Homo sapiens: one gene and its partner. The protein of the gene in region 1 interacts with the protein of each later gene in a pairwise test. Each region holds a gene or a part of one and is shown on either strand. Other genes may lie near its edges.

The links. Proteins that work in one complex are often made in the same cells at the same time.
Region 2: the proteins of NT5C3A (region 1) and DESI1 interact in binary tests that used the Homo sapiens proteins (3 or more experiments, as listed by UniProt).

What each region holds. Positions count from the first base shown.
Region 1 is NC_000007.14:33,024,771-33,031,798, reverse strand, and holds part of NT5C3A (cytosolic 5'-nucleotidase 3A), read left to right. Parts: intron 1-2,084; exon of another isoform or gene 2,085-2,170; intron 2,171-4,883; coding exon 4,884-4,982; intron 4,983-7,028. UniProt on the Homo sapiens protein: Nucleotidase which shows specific activity towards cytidine monophosphate (CMP) and 7-methylguanosine monophosphate (m(7)GMP). CMP seems to be the preferred substrate.
Region 2 is NC_000022.11:41,604,026-41,611,053, forward strand, and holds part of DESI1 (desumoylating isopeptidase 1), read right to left. Parts: intron 3,837-7,028; coding exon 3,815-3,836; intron 3,605-3,814; exon of another isoform or gene 3,501-3,604; coding exon of another isoform or gene 3,463-3,500; intron 3,307-3,462; coding exon 3,237-3,306; intron 129-3,236; coding exon 19-128; intron 1-18. UniProt on the Homo sapiens protein: Protease which deconjugates SUMO1, SUMO2 and SUMO3 from some substrate proteins. Has isopeptidase but not SUMO-processing activity. Desumoylates ZBTB46. Collaborates with UBQLN4 in the export of ubiquitinated proteins from the nucleus to the cytoplasm.

The sequences.
Region 1 (7,028 bases):
TGAACATACATATTTATAAATTAAAAGTACAAGTAATTTTTTTAGTCTTGGTTAAAATATGAATTGTTTTCTCTGTACATTGTGGATTGTATAACCCTTAGTTTATTTTGTTTTTTATTTTTAGTTTAAGAATAATAATTCATTATTTTAAATATAATGTATTTATGTGTGTTTTTTAATACAAAATCTTTTTATTTATTTATTTTTTTTTTGAGACAGGGTCTCACTGTGTCACCCAGGCTGGAGTGCAGTGGCATGATGTCAGCTCACTGCAACCTCTGCCTCCCAGGCTCAGGCAATCCTCCCACCTTAGCCTCCGAGTATCTGGGACTACAGATGTGCACCACCATGCCCGGCTAATTTTTGTATTGTTTGTAGAGACAGGGTTTTGCCACGTTGCCCAGCCTGGTCTCGAGCTGCTGAGCCCAAGTGATCCTCCTGCCTCGGCCTCCTAAAGTGCTGGGATTACAGGCATGAGCCACCATGCCCGGCCGTGTTTTCTTTTTTAATCAAAATTTAATATAATTTGAAATCTAGTTCAAACAGAATTAAACTTTGAAGTTGTCATAATCTCATCCTGGAAATTAGGATTATCCCTAGTCTGGAATATTATCATTGGATTGATGATACCAAGCCACACCCAGAAATTTGGTAACTGTACTATGGAGCTTCTCTCTTTTTTTTTTTTTTTGTTTTTTTTTGAGGCAGAGTCTCGCTGTCGCCCAGGCTGGAGTGCAGTGGCGCGATCTCGGCTCACTGCAGGCTCCGCCCCCCGGGGTTCATGCCATTCTCCTGCCTCAGCCTCCAGAGTAGCTGGGCCTACAGGCGCCCGCCACCTCGCCTGGCTAATTTTTTGTATTTTTAGTAGAGACAGGGTTTCACCGTGTTAGCCAGGATGGTCTCGATCTCCTGACCTCGTGATCCGCCCGCCTCAGCCTCCCAAAGTGCTGGGATTACAGGCCTGAGCCACCACGCCTGGCCAGAGCTTCACATTTTTATCTTATCCCAGTGTATCCACAAGATCATATCAAATCTAATATTAAACAATTGAGTTGTGGATAAAATGGCATAACTTTGAAATCCATTTCATCTCTATAAATATATTAAGTATTGGTCAAAATAAGTGAATTTTAGGTCTTTCTTAATCATTTTTGGTGTTGATTCAGATTGGCATCAATCAACCAACATACCCTGATTCTTTTCAGGAAGGCATTGCTCCCTCCCCAACATTTTACGCTGCGGCTTTACCATAAAATGAATTTGTTCTCTTTTTATCACAAATGATGGAAATTTTTAGCTTCTTATTTATTTTTCATAAAATTTTATCATAATCAAATTGAAAATTTTTCAGACAATTCAAAATACCTTGCCCTTCAAATTTGAAGTATCATTATTTATATGCCACCAAACCAAGTCTGTGTTTTTATAAGAGGGATATAGACAGAAGGACTTTGTGGAGGTAACAAAAGTATGTGATCTCATGCAACAGTTGGGGCATGTTCAACAACAACCACCACAACAAAAAGTATGTGATGTATTTCATCATACTTCTACAGTGTGCTTATATTATGATACTCTTTGACATATTCCATACAGGAGTCTTTGATTCTCTTTCTTAGGCTATATTGTAAAGTATTTGAGTAAAATACCCCATATCTCAAGTTCTTGTGAAGTATTTCTCATATAGATCAGTGACATTAATTGTGTATTGCAGGAGAGGAGTATAGTATACTATATAACCCAAGACAGATAGAATGGTCATTTTTATATTTCTTATACCTATTTCATCATTATTTTACTCCCGTGCCATTTGTGTATTCACTACTTATGAATACACAATGAAAATGAATGGTTGTATGTTGCACAGGAGCCACCAATGCCTTTAGCTACTGGTTCTCTTTCATCCATTGTGATTTAAAGTAAACCAGTATTGGCTGGGCATGGTGGCTTACACCTGTAATCCCAGCACTTTGGGAGGCTGAAGCGGGGAGATCACTTGAGCCCAGGAGTTTGAGACCAGCCTGGGAAACACAGCAAGACCTTATCTCTATAAAAATAAAATAAACCAATCTTACATTTGTTAGTGTAGCAGAAACCAGCCTTCTTCGAAGTGGTCTTGGTGTGATTCTCCTATCCGTTATCAAAAACTTGAAGCTGTGATTTGCCTGAGGTAAGACATCTTGGGTACACTGAAATCAAATATTTAATTTTTTTGGTGAAAAAATAGTCTATGATATATATCCTGTGTTGCTTTCACCATAATGGATTGGTTATTGAATCAAACATATGCTGATTGCTGTGCATCTGCCAGTTAAGGCTGAGGTAAGAACAGAAATTAGTTGTCAAGAGATAAACTTACTAGCTGAGGTATTTGTAAGGGAGTTACAGAAGTGATATTCCAAAACAGCAGTGGTCCCTAAAACTCAGCAGAAAAGCAGAGTAAATACTACTCATCATCATATCCCTAGCATTTAGCAAGAGTGTGTGGCACAAAGTAGACACATGGTAAATATTGGTTAGGCGAGTGAATGGGTTAATGTATGAAAAAAAAAAATAGGAACCAGTGCCTATCTGCCTTTCCATCTATTGAAAAATCACTATAAAATACATAGATAACCTTTAAGCCATTGAAACTCATCCAGTTGAGTTAAAAGGATTACTACATCAAGGTTAGTTGCATTGCAGGTCATCCTACTTAAATATGGCTTTTTAAAATTAAATATATTGTAGGTGGTAGATCTTTCATCCATGGAGAAAATTTTAATGTTAGCATTTGTCTTTTCTCTACACTTTCTTTTTTTTTTCAAGCTCTGCCTCCCGGGTTTACGCCATTCTCCTGCCTCAGCCTCCCAACTAGCTGGGACTACAGGCACCCGCCACCACGCCCAGCTAATTTTTTATGTTTTCAGTAGAGACAGTATTTCACCATGTTAGCCAGGATGGTCTCGATCTCCTGACCTCGTGATCTGCCCACCTCGACCTCCTGAAGTGCTGGGATTACAGGCGTGAGCCACTGTGCCCGGCCTCTTTCCTCTACACTTTCGTTATCATCTTCCAGTCTTTGGAAGACAGTCCATCCTTTTTCTGATTTTTCTACTCTTGCCCATTATGTAGGAACAACACGGCATCTGATAGATTTACGTGGTGAGATTCTCTTGTAGCAAAGATAGAAGGTCCAGGGAATTTTTGTAACCATGTCCATGACACACATGAACTATGTTAATATTACTAATAACATACCCAGAATAAAAACATATAAATAAAGATTATCCAGTACAAACCAGTATAGAACTTGGATTTGAGGTACTATTATTGCCTATGCTGTATAACTGACTATAAAATGAGGCATAATTTTCTCCTTCTAGTTGTATTGTACATGTGCTATGAGAGCTTGTACTGATTTTTCCTCTAATCAGTTTCATTCTATTTGTGATAAAATAGCTAGTAACAAGAAATAATACTTAAGATTAAATTGTTGAGCAACCCTAAAGTCTTCATAACTCTGTAGTAGCAGCCTACACCCATTTTTTAAGATGGGTCTTGCTGTGTTGCCCAGGCTGGTCTCAAACTCCTGGGCTCCAGTGATCGTCAGCTTCCAAGTAGCTGGGATTACAGGCATGTGCCACTGTGCCTGGCACAATACTTTTTGGCAGTTATCTCCATTTGAAATAAATCTATTGTAAAATGTGTGCCAAGAACAGTATATTATTTGGAAAATAGTACAATAAAAAGAGCAAAGATCTTGAAGCAGCTTTTCAAATTTAAAATATTTTAAATGTATTTTAATTATACAAAGACAAACTTTTGGGGGAATAATTGTGATAATTGCTTCCTTTCTGCTCAGGAACATTTTAAAATATAAATATGTAGGCAAGCTAAATGTATGTATTAATTCATAAAAGCCAGATGCAAAAGTATATAATGAGGATGAGCTAAAACTATATGCGTATATATGCATGTTTCAGAGGGATATGCTGAAGGTATTATATTAGTATTAGGGTGGAAGTTTAGTTACTGTATTATATAAAATGGAGGCTTAACGGGAGTCATCTTAAGATTTTTAGAAAAATTAATCAATCGAGGGGTAGCTGCTGGGGTATTCATGGTTAAAATATGATTTCTGGGCTCTCTGGATTGCATCACAACCCAGAAATGAAACTAATAGAAAATCACAGAAATGAAACTAATAGAAAATAAATTTAAATGTTACTTGTTTATCTTCACGTAGTTGAACTCCAGGCAGTTTTTATTGTCTTTTTTATATTTTTACTGTTATTTCTGTGGTAAGCGTGCATTGCTTTTATACTTAGAAAAAGATATATACTTTCTGATAAAGCAATTGAATCACAAATGTAGTTTTATCTTACTCTGTAGCTGGAAAATACTGATAAGTTTTAAGTATTTTTGTGTGTATAAATGGTAATGTGGGAGCTGGGCTTGGTGTCCCACACTTTTAATCCCAGGACTTTGGAAGGCCAAGATGGGAGGATTGCTTGAGGCCAGGAGTTCAAGATCAGCCTGAGCAACAAAGCAAGACCTCACTCACTTCTACAGAAAATTTTAAAAATTAGCTGGGTATGATGGCGCATGCCTTCTACCTACTCAGGAGGCTGAGATGGGAGGATCATTTGAGCCCAGGAGTTTGAGGCTACGGTGAGCTAGGATTGTGCCACTGCACTCCAGCCGGGGTGACAAAACAAGACCTCATCTCTAAAAAAGTAATAACAAAATAAATAAACGGTAATTTGATGTGGTGGCTTGCTTTTTAAAAATAATGCCTTAATATTTTTATGTCTTTAAATAAGACAGGTTTCTGCTTGGTATCAAAGGAACCTGGGGAAAGAAGAATGAAAACTAATTAATTAATTTTCTTTTACTTTTAGATGCCAGAATTCCAGAAAAGTTCAGTTCGAATCAAGAACCCTACAAGAGTAGAAGAAATTATCTGTGGTCTTATCAAAGGAGGAGCTGCCAAACTTCAGGTGAATAATTATCAAGAAGCCTTGGCTGTGTGTGTTGGCTCATGCCTGTAATTCCAGCACTTTGGGAGACTGAAGCAGGAGGATCACTTGAGCCCAGGAGTTCGAGACCAGCCTGGGCAACATAGTGAGACCCCATCTCTATTTAAAAAAAAAAAAAAATGGCCGGGCATAGTGGCTCACACCTGTAATCCTAGCACTTTGGGAGGCCGAGGCGGGTGGACAAGGCTGAGGTCAGGAGTTCGAGACCAGCCTGGCCAACATGGTGAAACTCTGTCTCTACTAAAAAATACAAAAATTAGCCGGGCCTGGTGGCGCATGCCTGTAATCCCAGCTACTTGGGAGGCTGAGGCAGGCTAATCACTTAACCCCGGGAGGCGGAGTTTGCAATGAGTTGAGATCATGCCACTGCACTCCAAAAATAAAAGCTTAATAATAAAGGCTTCTTTTTTTTTTTTTTTTTTTTCTTTTGAGATGGAGTCTCGCTCTGTTGCCCAGCCTGGAGTGCAGTGGCGCAATCCTGGCTCACTGCAACCTGCTCCTCCTGGGTTCAGGCGATTTTCGTACCTCCGCCTCCCCGAGCAGCTGGGATTACAGGTGCCAGCCACCACAACCAGCTAATTTTTTTGTTTTTTGAGACTGAGTATTACTCTGTTGCTCAGGCTGGAGTGCAGTGGCACGATCTCAGCTCACTGCAACCTCTGCTTCCCGGTTCAAGCAGTTTTCCCTCCTCAGCTTCCAGAGCAGCTGGGATTACAGGTGCCTGCCACCACACCCAGCTAATTTTTATATTTTTAGTAGAGACAGGGTTTCGCCATGTTGGCCAGGCTGGTCTCAAACTCCTGGCCTCAAGTGATCCATCCACCTCGGCCTCCCAAAGTGCTGGGATTACAGGCGTGAGCCATCATGGCCCAGCCTTATTTTATTTTTAATGTTAAAGCCGACTCATTCATCTCCTGTTTGATAAAATCTGAGTACAGCAAGTTTAGGTAGACAGTTTTTGCCTATCCTTTAGGAATATAAAATCCAGAAAATATATATCTTGAGTTGTTCTAAAACAGACAGAATACCCTATTGGAAAAACAAAAGTTAATAATCCTGAAATACTCTTAAGTTTTTATTAGTCTTAAGTAAGAAGCTAACTCATGCTGTGTACAAGCATTAAACCATTTTAAGGATAATATTTAAAAGTGTTTAGTTTTATGCTGCTCTTTCATGTTTTAATCATAGTAGTTCAGATTAAGATACAGCCTTATTAAGGGGATAATTGAGTTTTTAAAAAGTTGTCTCTGTTTTAAAGGAATGTGTTACATGTAAATTAAATCAACAATCTGGATATTCTGTAAAAAAAAAAATTATTCCTTTTTTAAAACATTTCTGAAAAATAATATTTAACCCAGTCTCCTAAGTTTCAAGAGCTGGCCAGCTATTTCAATGTGCATTCATTCATTGGTATAGTTTAAATAAGCAAGTTAAATCCAGCATGTAATGGTATCAGTAACTAAGAGCTTCATATAGTTGAATTGCTTCCACTGCATTTTTGTGCATTGACCAAGTTGGTCGAAAATCTCTAGTGAGAAGAGTAGCCATATCACCTGCAATTGCAAATTCCCATACCAATTAATCAGATTTTTTCAAATTTTTATTTATTTTTATTTATTTAATTTTGTTTTATTTTTTCGAGATGGAGTCTTATTCTGTCGCCCAGGTTGGAGTGTAGTGGCATGATCTTAGCTCACTGCAACCTGCGCCTCCCAGGTTCAAGTGATTCTCCTGCCTCAGCTTCCTGAGTAGCTGGGATTACAGGCACATGCCACCACACCTGGCTATTTTTGTATTTTTAGTAGAGACAAGGTTTTACCATCTTGGCCAGGCTGATCTCAAACTCCTGACCTCGAGTGATCTCCCCACCTCGGCCTCCCAAAGTGCTGGGATTCCAGGCATGAGCCACCGTGCCTGGCTGGATTTTTTCAATTTTTAAAGTCGATACATAATAACTGTATATATATATGCGGTACATGTGATATTTTCAAATGTATATAAAATGTG
Region 2 (7,028 bases), on another chromosome or scaffold:
ACCCCTGTCTCCACTCACCGGAACAGGGACTCCCCCAGGGAGGAGAGGTACTCCAGAAAGATTTCTTCTGTGACTTCTGTACTCCCCACATCAACCACAGAGTCTGGAGGCCCAAGCAATGTCCCTCCCTAAAAGAGCCAACCCAAAGGAAGTCATTAAGTTACCATCTCCACTGAATGTTTTAATGTGGCTTCCCACAGTAGACCACAAACACTCTGTTCTGACTTTTTTTTTTTTTTTTTTTTTTTAGACGGAGTTTCTCTCGTCACCCAGGCTGGAGTATAATCTCAGCTCACTGCAACCTCCGCCTCCCGGGTTCAAGTGATCCTCCTGCCTCAGCCTCCCAAGTAGCTGAGATTACAGGTGCCTGCCACCATGCCCAGATAATTTTTTGTATTTTTAGTAGATACAGGGTTTCACCATGTTGGTCAGGCTGGTCTCAAACTCCTGACCTTAAGTGATCCACCCACCTCGGCCTTCCAAAGTGCTGAGATCACAGGTGTGAGCTACTGCGCCCAGCCTGACTTCATATTTAACTTGCAGAGCACCCTGGGCAGATGAAGAATGTGATTTGCTATTTGTATCAAGGATGCAATAGCTTAGAAGCATTGGTGTCCAATCCTTTGGCTTCCCTGAGGCACACTGGAAGAAGAATGGTCTTGGGCCACACACAAAATACACTAACACTAATGATAGCTGATGAGCTTAAAAAAAAAAAAAGATAAAAAAATCTCATGTTTTAAGAAACTTTACAAATTCACGTCAGGCCACTTTCAAAGCTGTCCTGGGCTGCGTATGGCCCACAGGCTGCAGGTTGGACAAGCTTGGCTTAGAGCTTTCTGGTCACTTTTCATTGCCATGTGCTGGCAGCATAGTTAGGAGTCGGACTTCTTGTTTCTAGAGGGGAGGGGGGGCCCTGGGAAGCTGATTCTCTTGCAGCTCTGACTCCTGATGCTGTCCACTTACTCAGCTGAGAAAGAGAAACCCAGAATCTGAAGTCTACTTTTGTCCCCAGTATGTCTCATCATGAGGACAGAACAGGACAACAGAAATGGCTCACACTTCACAGGCCATCTCTCCATGCCTATTTGCATAAAGTATGCAGCCAGTTTTTCTTATGATATACTTGATATCCCGTGTAATAATGGAAAAACGAGGACGGTGAGAAATCTGGCAGGCTGGCAGATATTTCCATAATTCAGTTCTTTTTGGATCTGTGAGCCTAATCCTTGCCCTATCACCATCATAGGGCAAGGGAGTTAATGGCTCCCGAAAGGCCTACAGAAAACCCTCAGCCATGTGGTTAACAGACTGCCAGAGAAAACTGAAGGAGAGACTGAGGTTGAGTGGGGAAACCAGCCACTGGGGAAGCAACGGGATCAGCAGGAGAACAAATCTGGGAAGGGATAACACTCCAGAACAGAGCTCCCTGAAAAGATCATTCATTCATAGCCACTGAGCACCTCCTACATAGCTGACATTGTTCTGGGCACTGAGGAAAGCATGGTGAGCAAGATAACCATGGTAGGCAGAGAACAATTATCTCAGAGTTGTAAGAAACTAAAAGGTCACTCTTTGACCCCTCTTATTCACTCATATAACAACTATGGATTGAGAACTTATTATGTGTCAGGCCTTATGCTAGGCACTGGGGCTGTGGTGTGGACAAAATAGATGAGATTCTTGCCGTTAAGAAGCTTAGTGTAGCAGGGAAGGGAAACTGAAAAATCCCCTTAACCAGTATATAATTATGAGCTGCAATTAAGGGGAGGCTGGAAAAGTACAGAATGCCAACAGTACGTATGACAGGAGACCTTCCCGGTCTGAGGGATCAGGGAAGACTTGCCTGAGAAAGTGACACAACTCAAATCTGAAGGATGGAGAGGCGTAACCAGGTGAAGGATCAAGAAGGTGTACTGATGTCAGAGTGCAGGTTTCAATGTCTACGGTGTGTTCAAAGAATGAGAAGAGAGTGAGGGTTGGGAGGGAACAACCTAAAAGAGGCTGGCCAGAGTCAGAGTCAGAGACCAGATCAGGTAGGTCCTGGGAGGCCATGCTGAGTTTTCTGGCTTTTATTCCAAAAGCAATGGGAGAATTCTGGCTTATGCAGTAGATTGCTTGAGCCCAGGAGTTTGAGATCAGTCTGGGCAACATAGGGAGATCCTATCTCTAAAAAAATAGAAAAAAATAGCAGGGCGTGGTGGTGCTGAGTCCTAGCCACTCAGGTGGCTCAAGTGGGAGGATTCATTGAGCCTGGGAGGTGGAGGCTGCAGTAAGCAAGACTGTGCCACTGCATTTCTGGCCTGGGTGACAGAGCAAGACCCCGTCTCAAAAAAAAAAAAAAAATCCTTCCTGTAGGATGTAGCAAAAACAAACAAACACACAACCAAAATGAATGGCTGCTTGGCCATTGCTTGAGCACCTACTGTGACAACACTTGGATAGCTGATAGAAATTTTTGGAAAAGGCTGGGCGCTGTGGCTCACGCCTGTAATCCCAGCACTTTGGGAGGCCGAGGTGGGCTAATCACGAGGTCAGAAGTTTGAGATCAGCCTGGCCAACATGCTGAAACACCGTATCTACTAAAATATACAAAAAATTAGCTGGGTGTAGTGGCAGGCACCTGTAATCCCAGCTACTCGGGAGGCTGAGGCAGGAGAATGGCGCGAACCCGGGAGGCGGAGCTTGCAGTGAGCCGAGATCGCACCACTGCACTTCAGTCTGGGCGACGGAGCGAGACTCCATCTCAAAAAAAAAAAAAAAAAAAAAAAAAAAAGAAATTTTCGGAAAAGGGTGTGGGCTTTAGTGTGATAATCCTGGGTTCTAGGACTGGTGTCCCTTATTGGCTGTTTAAGTTTGGGCAAGTCTTGATGCTTCTCAGAGCCCTCATCATTCAGCTTAACATCAGTTGCGTTCCTAGGATGAGCCGGACACTGTGCAGGGGATGGAGATGGAAGGTCTCAGCTCGCAAGGAGCTTACACAGTTCCCTGTGGAGAACCAGAAACAGCTCATTTCACCATAACATGCTCTCTGTGAGACAGAAGGACCCACACGTGCCATGGGAACAGAGAGGAGAGGAACTGGCTGGGGTGTCTGGGAAAGGTTTTATTGAGCCAAGTCTTCAGGTGGCTTTGAGGAACAATGCCAGAAGTCCATAGTAGAAGCAAAGCTCCTGGTCTACAGGAGCCCCCAGGAACCTGAGACTGCAGGACAGAGTGTAGGGGAAGACACTCACCGGGGGGCAGCTGGAGATACCACCACTGCCGAAGAAGAACTCATCCTTGTGCACAACTATGGATGTGTGCCTGTCACACAGAGAGAGACACAGTAAGCCAGAAAACTTAAACTTTTGAGAAAAAGCAAACACCATAATGCAATGAGAGTAATTTCTGCCCAAGGATAGGACTGTGGGGACCAGTCTTATAAAACCAACAAACCAAAGGTATGAATATGATAAATACCACAGATCAGGGCTTCTCAATCTTGGCACTATTGACATTTGAGGCTGGATACTTCTTTGTTGTGTGGGGCTGTCCTGTGCATTCTAGTCTGTTGAGCAGCGTCCCTGCCTCTATCCACAAGATGCCAGTAGCATCCTCCTCCCTGTATGACAACCAAAAATATCTCTGGACATGGCCAAATGTCCCAGGGTGAGAGAGCAAAAGAACTGATGAGAAGCACTGCTTTAGGGCTTGAAGATTTATAGCATGGAGAGCTAGGTTTCATGCTGGAAGCCACAGACTAGAACCTGAAATGCATAGAGTGCTGCCTTGTTTCAAAACTAGTCAAAGTAAGGAGACCCACCCAACTTACCAGATGCCTTCCAGTTGTTTCCCTGTGGAGAGAAGAAGAGATTTAGCCACTTGGGACTAGAATAAGTGGCCCCTCAGCCTTGGTAAATTCATGACATCACTCAAACCCAGGGTAACCTGTCATAAACCTCTTGAGGGACTTTCTAGGAATGCAAGTCCCCTCCAGTAAGGTCTTTAGGTTGTGACAGAGTGTAAGTAAGTTGAAAAGTAATGAGAGTCTTTTATCAGAATGCAAGATTAAAAACACTAGTATAAAGGTACCCCAGTTTTATGTCTGCTATTCTTTCCTCTTTGGGGTCAATTCAGCTATGCCTTTTTAACTTCTCTGTCTCACGTACAGTAAGACTATAGTAATACAATGAATGTTATTACTCATTTCTTCATTGAGGTGAAATCCTTCAGAAACTGATAGGATAAAACTTTGCAAATGCTATCCATTTAAATAGTTAAAGCACGTTATTCTACCTCTATGTGCCAGAAACAATGTTAGGTGTGGAAATGCAAACAGGAACGTATCACTTTCCTGCCCTTGAGAAGCTCAAAGTCAAATGGACTGAGACACACAAATAATTAACTAAAACACAATGTTAATATGCTGTATCATAGTGGTAAAAATAAGGTACTAAATATAATAAACTACTTTTGTGAGCTTCCATTACCAATGACAAGTAAGGGCAGGGATGGACATTTCTGTGGGAGAGAACAAGATGTGCACATGCATGGCTGTGAAGTCTAAAGCCTGCAGGGCAGAGTGAAGGGGGCAGTGATGGTGCCAAGGGGAGGAGCGGCCAACAGGATGGCCAGCAAAGCGGGCAGGCCTGGACTCAAAGAGGCTGTGAGGCTGGAGAGTGCCTTGATCAGATCCATGTTCGGAAAAGATAACTGTAGTTGTGGGATAGCAGATGAATTGGAGGGAAGAGAGCAGACCAAGCAGACCATCACAAGAGTCCATGAGAGATACTCTACAGCAGTGCTCAGGAGGCAGAGGAAGGGCATTGAAAGACGTGGAGTGTCAGCAAACATCACCCACTCACTCCTGCTTATCACTTCACACGGCGACATGGCAGATTACTGATTGCTAACTGCTACCTTCGCTGTTTGCCCTGTGCCTTTCTTTTTTTTAGAGGCAGAGTCTCTCTGTTGCCCAGGCTGGAGTGAAGTGACGTGATCTCGGCTCATTGCAACCTCTGCCCCCCGGGTTCAAGTGATTCTCATGCCTCAGCCTCCCAAGTAGCTGGGATTACAGGCATGCACCACCAAGCCCGGCTGATTTTTGTATTTTTAGTAGAGACAGGATTTTGCCATGTCGGCCAGGCTGGTCTCGAACTCCTCGCCTCAAGTGATCCACCTGCCTCAGCCTCCCAAAGTGCTAGGATTACAGGCATGAGCCACCACACACTTGGCATAGCATCCTCAGAGATAGTTAAGGGGACCATATGGGTTCAGATCCTGGATTTTCCACTTCCTAGTGGTGGATCTTGGGCAAGTTTACCCAGCCTGTTTAAGTCTGTTTCTCCAGTTCAGAGTTGCTGTGACTGGTAATGTTAATGTATAGAAAGCTTCACAGTATGTGATATACAGATGTCTGATAAATGGAGGCTCTTATTAGGTACAATGACCTCCTTGGGGAAAAGGGTAAAGACTTCCAGAAGATAAAAATAAATTCTACTTCAGACATGTCACAGTGGCCCACCCCTGTAATCCCAGCACTTTGGGAGGCCGAGGCAGGCAGATTACTTGAAGCCAGGAGTTCAAGACCAGCCTGGCCAACAGAGAAACCCAGTCTTTACTAAAAATAAAAATAAAAAAACTCTCTGGGTGTGGTGGCATGCACCTGTAGTCCCAGCTACTCAGGAGGCTGAGGCACGAGAATTGCTTGAACTTGGGAGGCAGTGAGCCGAGATTGCGCCACTGTACTCTAGCCTGGGCAACAGAGTGAGACCCTGTCTCAAATAAAACAAAAAATAGGCCAGGTGTGGTGGCTCACACCTGTAATCCCAGCACTTTGGGAGGCCGAGGCGGGCAGATCACATGAGGTCAGGAGTTCGAGACCAGCCTGGTCAACAACCCCGTTTCTACTAAAAACACAAAATTAGCCGGGCATGGTAGTGCATGCCTATAGTCCCAGCTACTCGGGAGGCTGAGGCAGGAGAATCGCCTGAACCCAGGAGGCAGAGGTTGCAGTGAGCCGAGATTGCGCCATTGCACTCCAGCCTGGGCAACAAGAGCAAAACTCTATCTTAAAAAAAAAAAAAAAAAAAGACAAGGTACGGTGGCTCACGCCTGTAATCCCAGCACTTTGGGAGGCCGAGGCAGGCGGATCACAGGTCAGGAGTTCAAGATTAGCCTGACCAACATGGTGAAACCCTGTCTCTACTAAAAATACAAAAATTAGCTGGGCATGGTGGCAGGCACCTGTAATCCCAGCTACTCGGGAAGCTGAGGCAGGAAAATCGTTTGAACCTGGGAGGTGGAGGTTGCAGTGAGCCGAGATCGTGCCACTACTGTACTCCAGCCTGGGCAACAGGGTGAGACTCTGTCTCAAAAAAAAAAAAAATTCTACTTCAGTATTGGTAAGTAAAATCTAAGAACAGATTTCAACATCCAGCAAATTAATATGAAATGCTATATCTATTTTACATGTAAAATTCCATTCTTTGCTGTTAGTGTTCCCAGGCTAAATGGAATAACAAGAAAATGAAATGTAGCGGAGTACTTCTGCCTCTGTTCCAATTCCAGAGATCAGTCTGCTTTTCACCAAGAGATCTGCTGCTCTGGCCCGGAAGACCACAAGTGGGCCGGGCGTGGTGGATCACCTGAGGTCAGGAGTTTGAGATCAGCCTGGCCAACATGATGAAACCCCGTCTCTACTAAAAATACAAAAATTAGCTGGGCGTGGTGGCAGGCGCCTGTAATCCCAGCTACTTGGGAGGCTGAGGCAGAAGAATCACTTGAACCCAGGAGGCGGAGGTTGCGACGAGCTGAGATGGCGCCATTGTACTCCAGCCTGGGTGAAAAGAGCGAAACTCTGTCTCAAAAAAAAAAAAAAGACCACAAGTGGATAGAGGGATCCTAGCCAGGGGTTTCTGGGGATAGCACCCTAAAGAATGTGAGGCAGGTTCTGACCTTATCCAAACTGAGGTGAAATTTCACAGTGGTTGATGAGAACCAGACTGGATGCCAAAGGGGAGTGGTAATCCATTTAGGACGAGCAT